Regions from separate parts of the Homo sapiens genome. Here region 2 is linked to region 1. Evidence: fine-mapped expression QTL. A gene starts in region 1. The other region holds a variant in brackets. All regions are shown on one strand. Distances are between the middles of the regions. Region 1 holds the start of RNF207 (ring finger protein 207). Region 2 overlaps ACOT7 (acyl-CoA thioesterase 7).

Region 1 (8,321 bases):
GCTTTGGTCTGCAGGGTGGGCTCCTGGTGGGGAGGGGGCATCTGCAGGAGCAGAGGAGACTCACATAGCCCAGGTCCAGGAACTCAGCCTTGTTGGCCAAGCTGAGGAAGGAGGAGCAGATGACCAGGTGGACCTGGGGGAGGGGATGCTGCTCAGTGCCTGGCCGGGGAGGAGGAGGGACCCACCCGCACCCCGAGCTCCCTGTACCTGCAGGGTGGGCAGCAAGGTGGCCAAGTGAGAGAGCTGCTCCTTGAAGGCCTTGTCCTTCTCTTCGTATTGGCTGGGGGAGGGGGGCTGCCTGGTTTCCAGGGGGCCAGGAGCAGGGCCGGGCAGTTCCATCCCCCACCCGCCTCCAGCTTCGCATGTCCGTCCCTGAACCCCTTCTCTGCACCCTGAGCCATGCTGCCCTCCTTAGCTGGGAGGACATTCGGATGTCTTGCTCCTCAGGGTGGGGCAGGGCCTGCCCAGGCTCTGAGCTGAGGCCATGGAGGCCAAGGGGTAAGGGAAGCAAGCCCCGCTCCCCCCAACTCACCTCTGCACAGCCTGCAGCAGCAGCGCTTTCCTCTCTGCCAGCCTGTCCTGGGAGAGATGGCGAGCATGCTCTTGATTTGCGCCCCAGCCCTGCCACCTCCCACCATGCCTACCCCCCGGACCCCAGCCACCTGCTGGTTACACTAGGTATCTCTCCAACCTACCAGCCCTGCATCTGCTGCCTGGTGAGGGCTTGGGTCCCGTCACCTTAAATGTCACCTCCCCAGGGAAGTCTTTCCTGACCACCTCACACCCCCACCACCAGCCTGCGGCAGGCCCTGGTTTCCCCTCCCAGCTCTCCTAGCAACTCCAGGAAAGTGCTTGGTGCAAGGCCTGCTGCCCCACTACACTGGAAATCCACAAGGGCAAGGGACCAGCCCTGTGTCACCAGGTCCCGGCTGGGTCGTTTATCCCCCAACCCCCACCCCTCACCTGCATGCTGCCGAAGAGGGCGTGGATAGCGTCCTCCTCCTCGGCGGCGCTGTGCCGCACCTCCTCCACCATGGCCTGCAGCAGCGCGATGGCCTCCCGCGTGGCCGTCTGCAGGGCCTTCACGGCCTGGGGACAGGGCGTGGTCAGGCTCGCGATCGCCGCCGCGCGGCCCCGCGCGCCAGGCCCCTGCGCTCACCAGCACCGCCTGCTCCAGCCGCTCGCAGCCCTGCACGTAAGCCGATTCCAGGTCCACGCAGTGTGCCCGGCTCTCCCTGCAGAAGGCGGCGGGTGAGGCCCGCTCCAGCGGCCCCCAGCCCCCTCCCCTCGCGTCCCCTGTACGCACTTCTGCATGTCGCGGAAGCAGCGGATGCACAACAGCAACTTCTTGTCGGTGGAGAACAAGAGGTAGGGCTCTGCGTGCAGCGCTGCGGGGGCGGCGGGCGGTGGTGAGGGCTCCGGTCAGTGCCCGCCCCGCCCCCACCCCCAAGTCCCCGGCCCCGCAAGCCTCACTCACTGCACTTCTGGGGCACGTCGCGGCTTCGCTGACCCAGGGCCACGATGTCGTGGCGCGCGAACATGCGTGCTCGGTGCGTCTCGTCGCGGCAGCGCGCGCATAGGGGCTGTCCGCACGTGTTGCAGAAGTACGTGGTCTCCACGTCCTGCGGGCCGAGCGCGGGCTCAGGAGCGCCAGAGCCCGACCGCGGCCAGCGCGGGAACCGCAGCCGCCGCGTGTCACTGCGCGTGTTTGTCCCAGCCGTGGCCGGGTGCGCAGCTAAACGCAGCCCTTTCCTGTAATCCAGGCACTTGGCGCTCTGATATACCCACTTTACAGAGGAGGGCACTGCGGCTCAGAGGCTGGGTAAGTAGGTCCGTGGAGGGGGGTGGGGGACGCGGGGAGAGGGCAGAAACTGCCTTTATAAAACATTTTACCGAGGCCGGGCGCGGTGGCTCACGCCTGTAATCCCAACAATTTGGGAGGCCGAGGCGGGCGGATCACCTGAGGTCAGGAGCTGGCCAACATGGCGAAACCCTGTCTCTAATAAAAATACAAAAATTAGCTGGGCATGGTGGCGGGCGCCTGGAGTCCCAGCTCCTCGGGAGGCCGAGGCAGAAGAATCACTTGAACTCGGGAGGCAGAGGTTGCTGTGAGTCAAGTTGGCGCCACTGCACTCCAGCCTGGGCGATAAAGCAAGAATCCGTCTCAAAAAAAAAAATTTTTTTTTTTTTACCTGCAACAAAAGGGTGTGAGGGCCTCTCACGGCCCCCTTGGCACACTCAATAGTGGCCGAAAGGTGGTGTACACCCTGGCCATCTGGAGTCACACTTGGGGGCGGGGGGAGGGGAAGAGCAGTGAGGGCTTTAAGGTTCTCCTCCCCAAGCCAGACCCAGGGCTGGGATTCCAGGGCTTGGCCTGCAGCCCTGGTATGGACGCATGCAATGATGGACATAACAGGCCCTACCTGCAGTCCCTACCTCCTGCTAATCCTCTCTGTACGTCTGGGTCACACATTGCTCAGCACTTGTCCAGAACGCTGGAGCTTTTGCCCCAGTCGGGCCGTCCTCCTGGGATTCCCGATACATTTTCTGGCCTCCGCAGGCCAGAGTCCCCTGTGCCTTTTACAGCCCAGAGGGAACAGCATGCTGTCCCCACCTCCCCTGGGCTGTAGCTGCTTCTATGCCACTTGGGTAGCAGAGGCCCTTCAGGGTCGGCCCAGGCCTGCAAACTGGACTGCCCCTCCTGTGCAGGTCCACAACTCCACCCTGAATTGGGGACCAGTGAGCTCTCCCCAGATCGAATGGCCTTAGCCTCTGCCACTGTCTGGACACTGGCTCAAGTCCCTTGTTCTGGACCTCAGTCTCCCCACCGGTATAATGGGGTTCACATTTGGGGCCAAGGTGCCCTAGGGAGGTGCTGGAGAATCCACTGCCAGGTCGTCCTCTGAAGACATGCTGAGTGCATGTGCAAGCATTGGGGACTGTGCAACCGGGTACCCTCTGCTCCTCACCCACCCGCCCTGCCGCCCCTGCCTGCTCGCTGCACTCCAGGTCACAGTTGGCACAGCGCACCGCCTCCACGCCATCCCCTGAGCTGTCCACCAGGAACTGCAGCAGCCGGTCCACCGGCGGGAGCCCGCTGGGACCCTTCAGCACCGTCTGGTGTCTGCAGAGAAGCCCAGGCCCCGAGATTCTGATACCCCTTCCCCAGGGCTCCCCACCCCCACCCCTCACATTCCAGGCTGGAGCTAAAAATAGCTGTGTTGGGAGGTGGGGTGCACCACAGCTCTGGGGTCTGCTATAAATATCACAGCCAGCACTCACCCTGCCCTGGTCCCTACCCTTGCCCAGTCCTGGGCACTCCTGCAGACAGTGGGGTTGGTCCCCTAGTATCAAAAGCAGAAGCTGCTCCTCGACATCTTCTCACGGCATTGGGCAAATCAGAGCCACTCCTGGGTTCCTTGAGCCCACATAACTGAAACTGTGGTTTTGTGGACCTAAGACTTCTAGGACCCCCAAGCGAGTAACCGGGAGCGTCCTGACCAGTGCTGGAGCCCCGCCCTTACCCTCTGACTTTTGATGGGAGGTCTTGGGCCAGTAACTGCAATCTCCAGGCTTCAGTTAAGCTGATCTATAAAATGGACCGAAGCCTGCAACTTCTGGCGGGGAGAGCTAAGGACCGGGTGCAGTATCTCCCAGTCGTTCTGCCTGAAGTTGGAGCCTTACTCTCCTGGCACCTGGGTCCCAGCTCGGGCAGAGCCAACCTTGGGCCCGGGGGATGGGGTCTGGGGGGTTTTGGGGAACTTTGGGACACTTACTGGCACAGCGGGCAGGTGAGGCGGCCGTCGGTCGCGCGGCCACGCAGGCAGCCGGCACAGAAGTCGTGGAAACAGTCCAGAAGACACGGGCGCTCGTACTGCACGTGGCACAGCGGGCACACCAGCGGGTGGATGCTCGGGGCATCCAGGGAGCTCGGGCCCTCCAGGGGCCCGAAGATAGCTCCCGACATCTGCAGCGACAGCGCAAGCGGGCGGCTGGGGCACGCACGGAGCCCCGCTTGAGCTCCCGCGGCCCCTCTGCCCGGGCGCCCGCGCCCTCCCTATCGCGCCTGGACCCGACTGGGCGTCCAGAGGTCATGGAGTGGGGAGCCGCTAGGGCCCAGGTTAGGGCTGGGGCCTGGAGCTCCCCGGCGCAGGGAGAACAGGCAGTGAGGACTGGCGAGGGGCGGGGCCTTGTACCTACCCGCTGGGCCGCTTTGCTGGGAGCTACCGGTCCTCCGAGCCTCTCTCCCGCCGTCCAGCGCTCTTAGTGCGGCTCCGGGCCGCGCTCTGAGACACCGCGCGGTCGCTCTGCCGAGGAGTAGCCGGCCCTGGAAGTTCAGGCCCGCACCGGGCGATGGTTCCCACTCTGCGCGGGGCCTCCCTCTGCCGTGGCCTCTCCTACCTCTCCTCACTCCCACCCTCGGAATTCCCCGCCGGGTGTCCTCTGGGTGACCCGCAGGCGACGCCTCTTCCGGCATCCACCTTCCCCAGGGTGGCTGCTGCCTTGAGGCGCGGCGGGGCCGAACCGACCTCCGCGCTCGCCATCTGCTTTGCGCACTGGTTCCGGCCCGGCCACTCCACCTCCAGCCCGCGGGGAGGAGAGGCCAGGACGCCAAGGCTCCAGGGACGGTGCCAGGCAAGGGTGCAAGGATCGGACTGGCCCCTGCCCGGCATGACAGAGTCCGGAGCCCCAAGACCAGAGCGCCGCGCAGAGCGGGGCCGGAGGACCTTGGCTGCGGGGTCTTCAAGGGTAGGCCGGGCGCGGTGGCTCACGCCTGTAATCTCGGCACTCTGGGAGGCCGAGGCGGGCAGATAGCTTGAGGTCAGGAGTTCGAGACCAGCCTGGCCAACATGGCGAAACCCTGTCTCTACTAAAAATGCAAAAATTAGCCAGGCATGGTGGCGCCCTTCGGGAGGCTGAGGCAGAACTGCTTGAACCCGGGAGGCGGAGGTTGCAGTGAGCCGAGATCGCGCCACTGCACTCCAGCCTGGGCTACAGAGCCAGACTGTCTTAAAAAAAAAAAAGAGTCCAAACCCCACCCCCTACCCCCGCTAATCCCCACTCTTCCATCCCATTTGGGTCTGAACAGGTCATCGCCGCCTCATTTCCTCGGCGGCCAATTGGGGGCGCCAGAGAGCAGCGGACGCCCCTCCACCGACTTTCCAGCGCTTGGGAGGCGGAGTGAGACGCCCTGTAATCCCAGCCCTGCCTTTCGCTGGTTGTGAGCTCTTGGCCATGTTACTGACCTCTCAGAGCCTCAGCGCTGGGTTAAAATAGAACTGGTGTCCTGATAATGGGTGAGGCCCCAGTGGAATAACGCACGTGAAATACACATACTGGGCGTCCACTTAATTAAGGCCCTATCCTCATTGCCTGCCAAGTTCCCAAAAGAGGGATGGGTTTGGGTGGGAGGTTGAGAGGGGAGGTTCCCGGCCTTTCCAGCAGTGCCCCCTCTGCCGTCTGGGCCTGGCAGATGCGTGTTGATCCCAGCGTTTTCTCCAGCGTGCGCTCGCTTGCTAGGTCGACGTGATCAGTGAGCTTTCTCCGCCCGTGTTCTCCTGAGTGTCCTGAGAGCAGCCCGTTTCTGCCCCTCTTGCGATTACAAAGTCAAGCCCAGAGCCTGACCCACAGTAGTGCTCAATAAAGGCTTAGAAAAAGCTCGGAGATATTTGAGCTGTTTTCGTTTTGTTTTGTTTAAGACAGGATCTCACTCTGTCGCCGCGTGATCATATCTAACTGCAGCCTTGGCTTCCTTCCACCTCAGCCTCCCAAGTAGCTGGGACTACAACCACGCACCACCATGCCCGGCTAATTTTTTGTATTTTTAGTAGAGACGGGGTTTCACCATGTTGACCAGGCTGGTCTCGAACTCCTGACCTCAGGTGATCCACCCACCTTGGCCTCCCAAAGTGCTGGGATTACAGGTGTGAGCCACTGAACCCAGCCTTTTTTTTTTTTTTTTTTTTGTATTTTTAGTAGAAAAATAAAAAGTACAATGTGCTGCACACATCGGGGGTTTTGCTGTGTTACCCAGGCTGGTCTCCAACTCCTGGGCTCAAGCATTCTGCCTGCCTTGGCCTTCCAAAGTTGCTGGGATTACAGACGTGAGCCGCCTTGCCTGGCCTTGAGCTGGGTTTTGAAGGATGCGTAGGAGTAGGAGTTTGCTAGGAGAAGGAAGTGAATTCTAGAGAGAAACTAGCTGTTCTTTTGAGGACTGTCCCTAGCCCTGGTTCTTTTTTTTTTTTTTGAGACTGAGTCTCATTCTGTCACCCAGGCTGGAGTGCAGTGGCGCAATCTCGGCTCACTGCAAGCTCCGCCTCCTGGGTTCACGCCATTCTCCTGCCTCAGCCTCCCGAGTAGCTGGGACTACAGGTGCCCGCCACCACGGCCGGCTAATTTTTTGTATTTTTAGTAGAGACAGGGTTTCACCATTCACAGGATGGTCTCGATCTCCTGACCTCGTGATCCGCCCCACCTTGGCCTCCCAAAGTGCTGGGATTACAGGCGTGAGCCACCATGCCCGGTCCCTAGCCCTGGTTCTATTTGTGGACCAAATCATAATGACAGTAGTAGCAATGGCTAATGTTTATGTGTTTATAGGCCAACATTCTTTTATGGGCCAAGATTCTTTTTTTTTTTTTTTTTTTGAGATGGAGTTTTGCTCTTGTTGCCCAGGCTGGAGTGCAATGGCGCCATCTCAGCTCACCACAACCTCCGCCTCCCGGGTTCAAGCGATTCTCCTGCCTCAGCCTCCCGAGTAGCTGGGATTATAGGCATGTGCCACCGCGCCTGGCTGATTTTGTATTTTTAGTAGAGACGGGGTTTCTCCATGTTGGTCAGGCTGGTCTCGAACTCCCGACCTCAGGTGACCTGCCCGCCTCTGCCTCCCAAAGTGCTGGGATTACAGGCGTGAGCCACCACACCGGGCCTTTTTTTTTTTTTTTTGTACAAGGGGAGGGAGGGTGGGGAGATATGGGCCAATATTTTATTCTAAGCTGTTTAACTTATATTAACTCATTTAATCTGGAGAACACTCTTAAAAAGTAGAAAATATTACCCCAGAAAGTGGTGGAGCTGGTATACAAAACCGCGTAGGTGCTTTGTTAAGGAATGATGCATTAGTTTCCCGGTAGGAGGTGAGTGCTTCATTCATCCATTCATTCATGTCTGCATCTGTTCAACTAGTATTTACAGAGCATCTACCATGGGCACATAGAAGGGAACACACCAGCCAAGGTTAGTCAAGTACACAGATTAACAAATAATGACAGGCTGCATTAACTGCTTGGAAGAAAATCATAAGGATGATAGGCCGGGTGCCGTGGCTCACACCTGTAATCTCAGCACTTTGGGAGGCTGAGGTGGGCGGATCACCTGAAGTCAGGAGTTCGAGACCAACCTGGCCAACATAGTGAAAACCCGTCTCTACTAAAAATACAAAAATTAGCTGGGCACGATGGATCATGCCTGTTATCCCAGCACTTTGGGAGGCCGAGGCGGGTGGATCACGAGGTCAGGAGTTCGAGACCAGCCTGGCCAGCATGGTGAAACCCTGTCTCTACTAAAAGTACAAAAAATTAGCCAGGCATGGTGGCACGCACCTGGAGTCCCAGCTACTTCGGAGGCTGAGGCAGGAAAATTGCTTGAACCTGGCAGGTGGAGGTTGCAGTGAGCCGAGATTGCGCCATTGCACTCCAGCCTGAGTGACAGAGTGAGACCTCTGTCTCAAAAAAAAAAAAAAAAAAAAAAAAAAAGGAAAAAAAGGAAAAATTAGCTGGGTGTAGTGGTGCATGCCTGTAATCCCAGCTACTCTTGCGAGGCTGAGGCAGGAGAATCGAGATGGCGCCACTGCACTCCGGCTTGGGTGACAGAGTGAGATTCCGCCTAAAAAATTAAATAAATAAATAAGGATGATGAGATGGAGGGCAGTTGGGAGGGGCTCGAGCTGAGGACCACACTAGGTAACCATGAGCAGAGAGGGGGAACTGAGCTTGAGACCCCCAGAGGATAAGAAATTAAGAAAAGCCAGGAAGGCTGGGCGCAGTGGCCCACACCCGTAATCCCAGCACTTTGGGAGGCCAGCGTGGGTGAATCTCTTGAGCCCAGGAGTTCAAGACCAGCTTGGGCAACATAGCAAGACTCCCCCCTCTATAAAAAATACTAAAACTTAGCTGGGCATGGTGGCTCGTGCTTGTAGTCCCAGCTACTTGAGAGGCTGAGGTGGAAGGATTGCTTGAGCCAGGAGGTTGAGGCTGCAGTGAGCTGTGACTGCACCTCTGCAGTCCCACCTGGGTGATAGAGTAAGACCCTGTCTCGAAAGA
Region 2 (8,321 bases), 120 kb before region 1:
GGTGACAGGATCGTGATAGTGACATGTCCTTTCGGGAGCCAGGACCACCAGGCTGCGGGGGCCGGGCCAGCTGTTCCCCCGTGGCCCCTGCAAGCTGGTTCTGATCTCTGCTTCTGACGCAGTGGCTGTGGAAACAGTTGTCATATGAGCTTTTGTCTTTCTCCCTTCTTGTCCCCTGCTGGGGTCTGTCTCCTTCTCTGTGTTTCTCTCATTTCTGGCTTCGCTGTGGTTGGAAGCATCTTTCTTTCTTTCTTTCTTTTTGTTTTTTTTGTTTTTTTTTGTTTTTTTGAGACGGAATCTTGCTCTGTTGCCCAGGCTGGAGTGCAGTGGCGCGATCTCGGCTCACTGCAAGCTCCGCCTCCCACGTTCACGCCATTCTCCTGCCTCAGCCTCCTGAGTAGCTGGGACTACAGGCGCCCGCCACCACACCCAGCTAATTATTTTATATATATTTTTTAGTAGAGACGGGATTTCTCCATGTTAGCCAGGATGGTCTTGATCTCCTGACCTCATGATCCACCCACCTCGGCCTCCCAAAGTGCTGGGATTACAGGTGTGAACCACTGCGCCCGGCAGAAGCACCTTTCATAATACCAGTTCATTATGTTGTCAGAGGGGTCCTGCCATGGGCGGGCCTGTGGGCGAAGCCTGTGGAAGCCACACATACAGACTCCTGGAGGGGAGACGTTGGGAATAAAGAAATTTAATTCGTTGCCTAAAAGTACTCCCTCGCCTCCTTCTCCTGTGCCCCAAGTTCATTGGCAAGTCCAAGGACAGATGTGACCAGCTCCTCCCGCAGCCTGACCCTGCGGTCCACAGGCCACAGCCCCCAGGAAGAGCTCTTCTTAGAGGGAAGGAACCAGGATTCTGAGTCTCTGCAGTGTGGGCCCCGGCAGGGAGCTTTTCCTCCGGCTGAGATATATATATAGAATACATTTTTAGAAATAATAAAACTGAGAACCAGATTGTCAGGAATTGGTGCCTGCTCTTTTTGCTTCCAGACCCAATAGAGACGCTGGGTGCTCTTGCCGCTGCCGGCAGCCTTGGTTCCCTCCCCAGCGTTTGCCGGGTGCAGGCCACTTCCCGCCTGTAGGAGGCCTGGCTCTCCATCTTCCCGTGGCCCCCCGGTCACCAGGGCTGATGGGGCCTCGGTCCCTGCTGCCACTGCCCATGTGAGACTGGGGAGGTGCTCCTTGAGACCTGCTTCCTGCCGTCTCTTCTGTCCCCAGCTCCGTGTCTGACCAGGCACCCTGCCAGGGTCTCCTCAGAGGGCAGTGAAGGTCTGGGTGGGGTGTCTCCCCAGGTGGGTGTGGCTGGCTGCCGGGTCCAGCTGCTGTTTGGCCTAGGTTTTGTTTTTTTTTAATCTTGGTGACAGGGGAGCCCTGTCCATATTTAATGGGAAGGGCAGGCTGGTGGCTGCACCTTTGGTTTTATGAGAGCAGGATGGCAGCATGCCAGAATCTGGCCAGTGGGCGGGGGCTCAGGGTCGGGGTGTGGAGTCCGAGGTCTCATATTCCCACCTGACAGTGTCCCGGGGCTGCTGTGACAAAGTGCCACTGACTGGGTAGCTCTCAAACAATAGAAGTTGATTCTGTCACAGTTCTGGAGGCCAGAAGTGCAAAGGTATGGGCAAGGCCCTGCGCCCTCCATTGGCCCCAGGCGAGGATCCCTCCTGGCGTCTCCAGCGCCGGGTGGCTCCAGGCGTCCCTTGGCTGAGGCTGCGTCACTGAAGCTTCTGCCTCCATCTTCGCACGGCCTGCTTACCGGAGTACGGGTCACTGGGCTCAGGGCCCGTCCCATTCTGCTGTGACCTCATTCTAACTGTTTACAACTACAAAGACCTGGTTTTTGGAGCATTTGCATTTTGAGGTTTCAGGTGGATATACATTTTGAGGGATGCTGTTCAACCCACTGCACCAGCCCTCGGTTCAACAACCTCTCCCGTCTCTTGTTCTTGTGGGGCTGTTCTCTCCCTGCTTCTTGGCTGAGATGGAAGTTGTGGTCATTTTCAGCAGTGCTAACTTGGGGGTGATTGAAGACCTAAGGAGCAGGGGTCAGATGGGGGCTCCTGGCTGTTCTCCGCAGAATTGCAAGCACACCCACCCCACGTTCATTCTTTTCTCTAAGCCCTTGGCGTTCAGTGAGCCACATCACATGTAAATATTGAGACATAGCATTTAACGGATTTAATTTTCAGATGCTACCCAGTTCTGAAATCTCTCCCAGGCCCCATGCCTGGCTTCAGCATCTGATGGTGCATCTCAGGCGGGTGATACCGAGGGGCGGGCCTGGACCTGAACACAGTCACTTTTGCTGCCTTGTCGCTTAGGATCGATGCGCCAAGAGCTGTTGGGTTTTTGGCCAGTGGAGGGGACGGGTAGCTTCTGACTCCCCTGGCTCCCATCCCCTCGCTGCAGGGACAGGGTGCTTTCAGCGTGGCCCCTGTTAGCCTCGCCTCTCCTTGCCCAGTAATTAGCTCCCTCCCTCCCACATCCTGGAGGAGCTCCCAGTTGCTTTTTCATTTCCTTTGTAGAGTGGGTTTGATGAGACATAAATACCAACTTGGCCTTGTCGAGGAGTTGTTGAAACCATTCCATGGCTCCGAGGCAGCCGGAGCCGCAGATGGGAGAGGCTGCACGGTTCTCAGCTGCAGCTGTTGTTCAGAGCTCTTTGCACCATCTTCCCCCCAACACACGCTAGGCCCACGTAGTATAAACCTCCCACTGATTTGGAATCTAGGTCTCCTGTTTTTCACTGGTGGGCCCGGCCAGAGGCCTGCTTAGGAATCCCAGAAAGTACAGCTTCCTTCCCTGGCTCCGATGGGCATTTATGCCCATCTGCTGGTGGCCTGGCCACAGGGCTGTCTTATATTGCATGAGCATGCTCCCGCTGACCTTTCTACAGACAGCCATCCCCGATTTAGGAAAATGTACGTCCCTGTATGTATAGATATACAGATATATATTATATATACACATACAAATAGAGATGTCACATACGTATGCATGTAGATATCTTGAACACGCACACACACACACACACCACACACACACACTGGTTTCCTGGATGTGTGCGTCTCCCTGGAGGAACCCAGCTGCCGGCCATGCGCACAGTCGTCTAGCGCAGGATGTCTTTTCTTTGCTCCACCTTCCTCCCCAGCCTGCCTGCAGCTTTCCCAGTGAGCAGGGAACCTCGGTGGGCCTGTGATGGGCCCGAGGGGCCCCAGGATGACCAGAGGGGCAGCCGCAGCCCTGGACAGGCTGAGTGGCTGTCGGGGGTGGATGCTTTGGTTTTTTTCAAATGTCTGAATATGTGCTCTAGCGAAGAGGTTCACAGCCTGTCTCTCAGATATTTGGGCCACGCTGTCTGCTGCTTCAGATCAGTTGGGTTTGATGAGCTCTCGGGGGTGAGAGTTAGGTGCCAGCCATCATTAAAATGTTCCAGCGGTTTTGTTCCCAGATGGAAAGGCAGCATTGGGGAGGAGGCTGGGCTTCTCCTCATGGCTTGTGTCCAGGACTGGGCCCCATCATTTCCCTGTGCGCCTGCCAAGCCCAGACAAATGTACTGGATACCATGAGGATTTATTAGACCGGGGGCTGGCTCCTTTAAAAAAAAAAATCCCTTTAAAAGGCATCTCTTGAGGATGCTGAAGTTCACCCACCAATGTTCCTAGGTAGATACACAGCACAGACTCTCTTCTCACAGTCGTTACTTGGCCGGTGGAACATTAGGACGTGGTTTATTTATGGAGGAAAAGGTTGAATTATCCACTGCAACTTAAAACACTCCCCACAGTTTGCTTCTTTTGAACAAACGCTTCAGCTCCCTTCTCAGCCTCTTTTGAAGATGGGTTCTCAACTGAAGATGATGGGTAGTTACGCCGAGGAACGGTGAATGGTGCTGAGACCCTGCACAATTTTGGAGCTGAGCCATGAGCAGGAATTATCGAGATGTTTAAAACTGGCTTTTGAAAGAAGGCCTAACACAGCCGTCTGAAGTGAACTTGCTTAGGTCAGAGGGGCTTCAACAGGCGGCCGAGGGGCCCAGAGGGGCCCTGAGTTCCGTGGCTTCCCCACAAGCTCAGCTGGAATGGTTGGTTGAGTGAATGTGAGAGCAGAAGTGGAGGCTAATCAGAACAGCCAGGTGGTAGTCGGCCCCTGGCCAGGCCAAGGGGGAGGGAGAAGGTCGTGGGGGATGGAGCAGGCAGAGGGTCTGGAACCAGCCTGCGGCCAGCACACAGGCCCCGAGGGCCCCTCCGAGGGTCCCATCCGAGTGTGGTGCATCCCCTCCAGTGTGCACAGCAGGGCAGTGAGTGAACCGTCTGTTACGTCCAAGAAATGCAGTATCCCCCTGCTGTGTCCCGGGACTCAGGAGCTTTGGCTTTTG[T/C]GCTGAGTTGTTGGTGTTTTTTATTTATTTATTTATTTTTTTAGACGGAGTCTCGCTCTGTCGCCCAGGCTGGAGTGCAGTGGCGCAATCTCGGCTCACTGCAACCTCCATCTCCCGGATTCAAGCGATTCCCTTGCCTCAGCCTCCCGAGTGGCTAAGACTACAGGTGCCCACCACCACCCCTGGCTAATTTTGGTATTTTTAGTAGAGGCGGGGTTTCACCATGTTGGCCAGGGGTTTCACCATGTTGGCCAGGCTAGTCTCGAACTCCTGACCTCAAGTGATCCACCCGCCTCAGCCTCCCAAATTGCTGGGATTACAGGCACGAGCCACCATGCCCGGCCTGTGCTGAGTCTTATAGTCACATTTATTTTTAACTTCTGGAGTCAAAACCCCTGTGATTCATTTGGAGAGCCGTGGGAGGACAGTTCCATCTTTTACTGCCCATTCTCTACCAATATATAACCTGTTTGATTGGCCAAGGGTCAGCAGGGACACACAGGGTTCCTGCTCTGTCATGGACTTTGGAGAGTGGGTGGGGCCTTTTTGAGGATCCCTTTATTCTGTAATGAATCCTAGGAAGCAATGGGACAGTGCAAAATGATTTTAAGTAACCTAGGATCAGTATGGTTTTAATAGTGAAAAAGCGGGGGCCGGGCACGGTGGCTCACGCCTGTAATCCCAGCACTTTGGGAGGCTGAGGCGGGCAGATCGCAAGGTCAAGAGATCAAGATGAGCCTGGCCAACATCGTGAAACCCCATCTCTACTAAAAATACAAAAATTAGCCGGGCATGGTGGCGGGCACCTGTCGTCCCAGGTACCGGGGAGGCTGAGGCAGGAGAATCACTTGAACCCGGGAGGCAGAGGTTGCAGTGAGCTGAGATCACGCCACTGCACTTCAGCCTGGGACAGAGCGAGACTCCATCTCAAAAACAAAGAAAAGAAAAGTAAAGAAAAATTGGGAACAAGCTAAGTGCCCACATAGTTACAAAAATTACGTTAAATAGATACACGGTTGCTTTTAAGCTCCACATACAGCACCATAGAGCTTTTTATATATTTGTAGGCATTAAAGCAATTCCAGGAAGGATCTAAACCAAACACTTGACCCAGGTTGTCTCTCTGGGGAGTGGAGCCACATGGGATTTCACTGTTTCTGTATTCTTATTACTTATATTAAAACACACATGAACAGAAGAAAAAATAGTCCCAGTTACACAAGGCTATAAGGGCCTGGGATCATGGCCGCCCAGCGAGGGGAGGAGGCCGTGTCCTGCCTGGGCCTGACCTGTCTTTGGTTTCTCGCAGTATTCCCGGCAGGAGCAGGAGGAGGAGGGCCGGAAGCGGTATGAAGCCCAGAAGCTGGAGCGCATGGAGACCAAGTGGAGGAACGGGGACATCGTCCAGCCAGTCCTCAACCCAGGTAAGAGCCGCGGACACCAGCAGCAGGTGCCACTCCTCACCGGGGACGCATAGGAGGCAGGAGCAGGCCGGGCCTACGTGAGCCTCATGCTTGAGGTTCCCCAGGTGCTGAGCATGCTCTCCGGGAACCAGTTTCTCTGGGGTCCCCAGGGAGGGCTGTCCCCCAGCCCCGCCCTGAGCCATGTAGACCCCTCCAGTCACACACCTGGAAGGCGACCTGCGTGACTCAGGGAGTCCCAGAGGGCACTGTGCGTGGGGCCTCCATTGCCAGGCAGGTGGTGTGCACCTGTTCACAAGGAATTTGTTTTTGTTGTATCTTTTCCTTGTGTTCGCTCAGTGGCTTGTTCTTTTCTTTTTTTTTTTTTTTTGAGTTGGAGTCTTGCTATGTCACACAAGCTGGAGTGCACTGGCACAATCTTGGCTCACTGCAGCCTCTGCCTCCTGGGTTCAAGTGATTCTCCTGCCTCAGCCTCCCGAGTAGCTGGTATTACAATTACAGGCATGTGCCACCATGCCCGGCTAATTTTTGTATTTTTAGTAGAGATGGGGTTTCACCATATTGGCCAGGCTGGTCTCTAACTCCTGACCTCAAGTGATGAGCCTGCCTTGGCCTCCCAAAGTGCTGAGATTACATGTGTGAACCACCACACCTGGCCAAGTGGCTTGTTCTTGATGGGATTTCCAACTCATCCAAAAAAGAAAAAAACGGCAGCAGCTGTTCAAGCGCCACTTCTTCCCGGCCCCACTGTTCAGACATTGATTGGAGGAGGGGCTCTGCCAGTAGGCACTGGGCTCTGTGGCATGCCCAGTTTCCCTGTGGTGTTGGTCCCTTCTGCCATCCATCCTCTTGCTCTCATGTCAGGGTGCTCTGGCTTTAACAAAATGTTCACTCAAAATCTAAACGAAGGCACGATGAGATGTTTTGCCTCAAGCAAGGACTTTCTACCCAGAGAACTCCCCGCGTTCCTAGAAACAATTCAGGGCAGGGGGCCCTGGGGAGCATCTGTCCCCCTAGGAAAAGGGTGAGCCCTCGGGGGCAGGCAACGAGCATTACCCCTCTCCCTACTGCACACATGGTGGTCATGTTGTCGTAGTGGCAGGAGAACTCCCTCCAGGACGCACTGTGTGCTTCTCTGCCTCCCTGCGATGGCCTGGGCTCGTGGCACATTCGTGCTCTGTGCTGGGTTCCACAGGGTACCTCATGCGGGATGGCAGCCTGAGGAGGGTTTGCTGCCCCCCACCATGCCTTGGGAGACCCTGGTCATGGTGGGTGTTTGAGTTTCTTACTCAGCTTTCTCTGTTTTGCCTCCACCCTCAGCAGTGGTGGAGGACCTGCCTCAAGTAATCCCTTTCCCCCTTGGATGTGCCTGTGATGTGGGCTCCACTCTGGGGTCCACCTGCTCCTAGCCCTGCCGAGAGGCGCCCTGGCCCCTGCTAACCTGGACTCGGGGCATTGTTATGGCCGCTCACCTCCCTTGCTTAGTCCACATAAGCACCAAAGGGGACTGGTGAAAACCCAGTGGGCGCACAGATGAGAGCATGGCTTTCTGGGCTTGGCTGCTGGCATGCAGCAGGAGTGTGCTTGTTTTCTGGGCGGGTCAACTTGAGGCTTGAACAGGAGTTTGTGTGTATTTGGTCTCACATGTGTGTCTCTGACTCAGTCTGTGCTCCAGCCTCAACTTGCCAAAAGCGGACTGGTTGTCACCTTAGGCCAGTGGGACTGGGTAGGTCGGTTTCTTTACTGTTGGGGAAACCACTGTAGGTTTCCTCTCTTTTCATGTCTGCTTTTTAACAAACACCAAAAAAAGAAAGAAAGAAAATTAATGTGTCAGTATTAATAGAAAGAATGGTGCTGCTTTGATGAAACCCCAGTAAAGAGATATCTTTTTTTTTTTTTAATTTGAGGCAGAATCTCGCTCTATCCTCCTGGCTGGAGTGCAGTGGCGCGATCTCAGCTCACTGCAAGCTCTGCCTCCCGGGTTCACGCCATTCTCCTGCCTCAGCCTCCCCAGTAGCTGGGACTACAGGCGCCCGCCACCATGCCCCACTTATTTTTTGTATTTTTAGTAGAGATGGGGTTTCACCGTATTAGCCAGGATGGTCTCGATCTCCTGACCTCGTGATCCGCCCACCTCGGCCTCCCAAAGAGCTGGGATTACAGACGTGAGCCACTGCGCCCGGCTGAGATATCTTTTAAAAATAAAATTTAAACAGCCAGTTTATCAACACAGCAATACACCAGACAGGCCTGGAGGCACGTGCTGGGGCAGGCAGTGCCCAGGCCGTGCTTTTGGGAGGGCAGCCCAGCAGTCAGGTCAGACACCGGCTGTAAGGAATGGGATGGGATGGGAGCAACGGGAGGTGTCTTAGGAAAGGCACCAACACAGCGCTCAGGGCCAGACAATATGTCCACATTCAAATCCCTAGAGCCTGTGAATGGGACCTTATATGGAAAATGGGTCTTTGCAGATGTGGTTAAATTAAGGATCTTGAGATCATCTGGGTTATGCAG

What was found. PIP is the estimated chance that this variant, and not a neighbour inherited with it, causes the effect.
Region 2: its variant is the best candidate, but not a certain one, in a credible set for the expression of RNF207 in tibial artery (GTEx, PIP 0.86).

The regions. Positions count from the first base shown.
Region 1 is chr1:6,202,182-6,210,502 of GRCh38, reverse strand. RNF207 (ring finger protein 207) reads right to left here and starts at 4,384. Exons shown (of 18, transcript NM_207396.3): 1 at 4,201-4,384; 2 at 3,777-3,967; 3 at 2,992-3,124; 4 at 1,478-1,622; 5 at 1,307-1,388; 6 at 1,160-1,235; 7 at 964-1,089; 8 at 533-579; 9 at 208-280; 10 at 65-133. The coding sequence starts at 3,967. RNF207-AS1 (RNF207 antisense RNA 1) reads left to right here and starts at 4,723. Exons shown (of 3, transcript NR_125997.1): 1 at 4,723-4,749; 2 at 5,090-5,297; 3 at 5,521-5,663. RefSeq lists silencers at 1,386-1,455, 1,500-1,794, 3,942-4,111, 5,060-5,354 and enhancers at 4,312-4,541, 4,189-5,008.
Region 2 is chr1:6,324,788-6,333,108 of GRCh38, reverse strand. It overlaps ACOT7 (acyl-CoA thioesterase 7), which reads left to right. Exons shown (of 9, transcript NM_007274.4): 5 at 5,696-5,810. Among named protein-coding and RNA genes, the nearest start is that of ACOT7, 65 kb to the left of the region's middle. The variant T/C (reference allele first, on the strand shown) is at 4,387.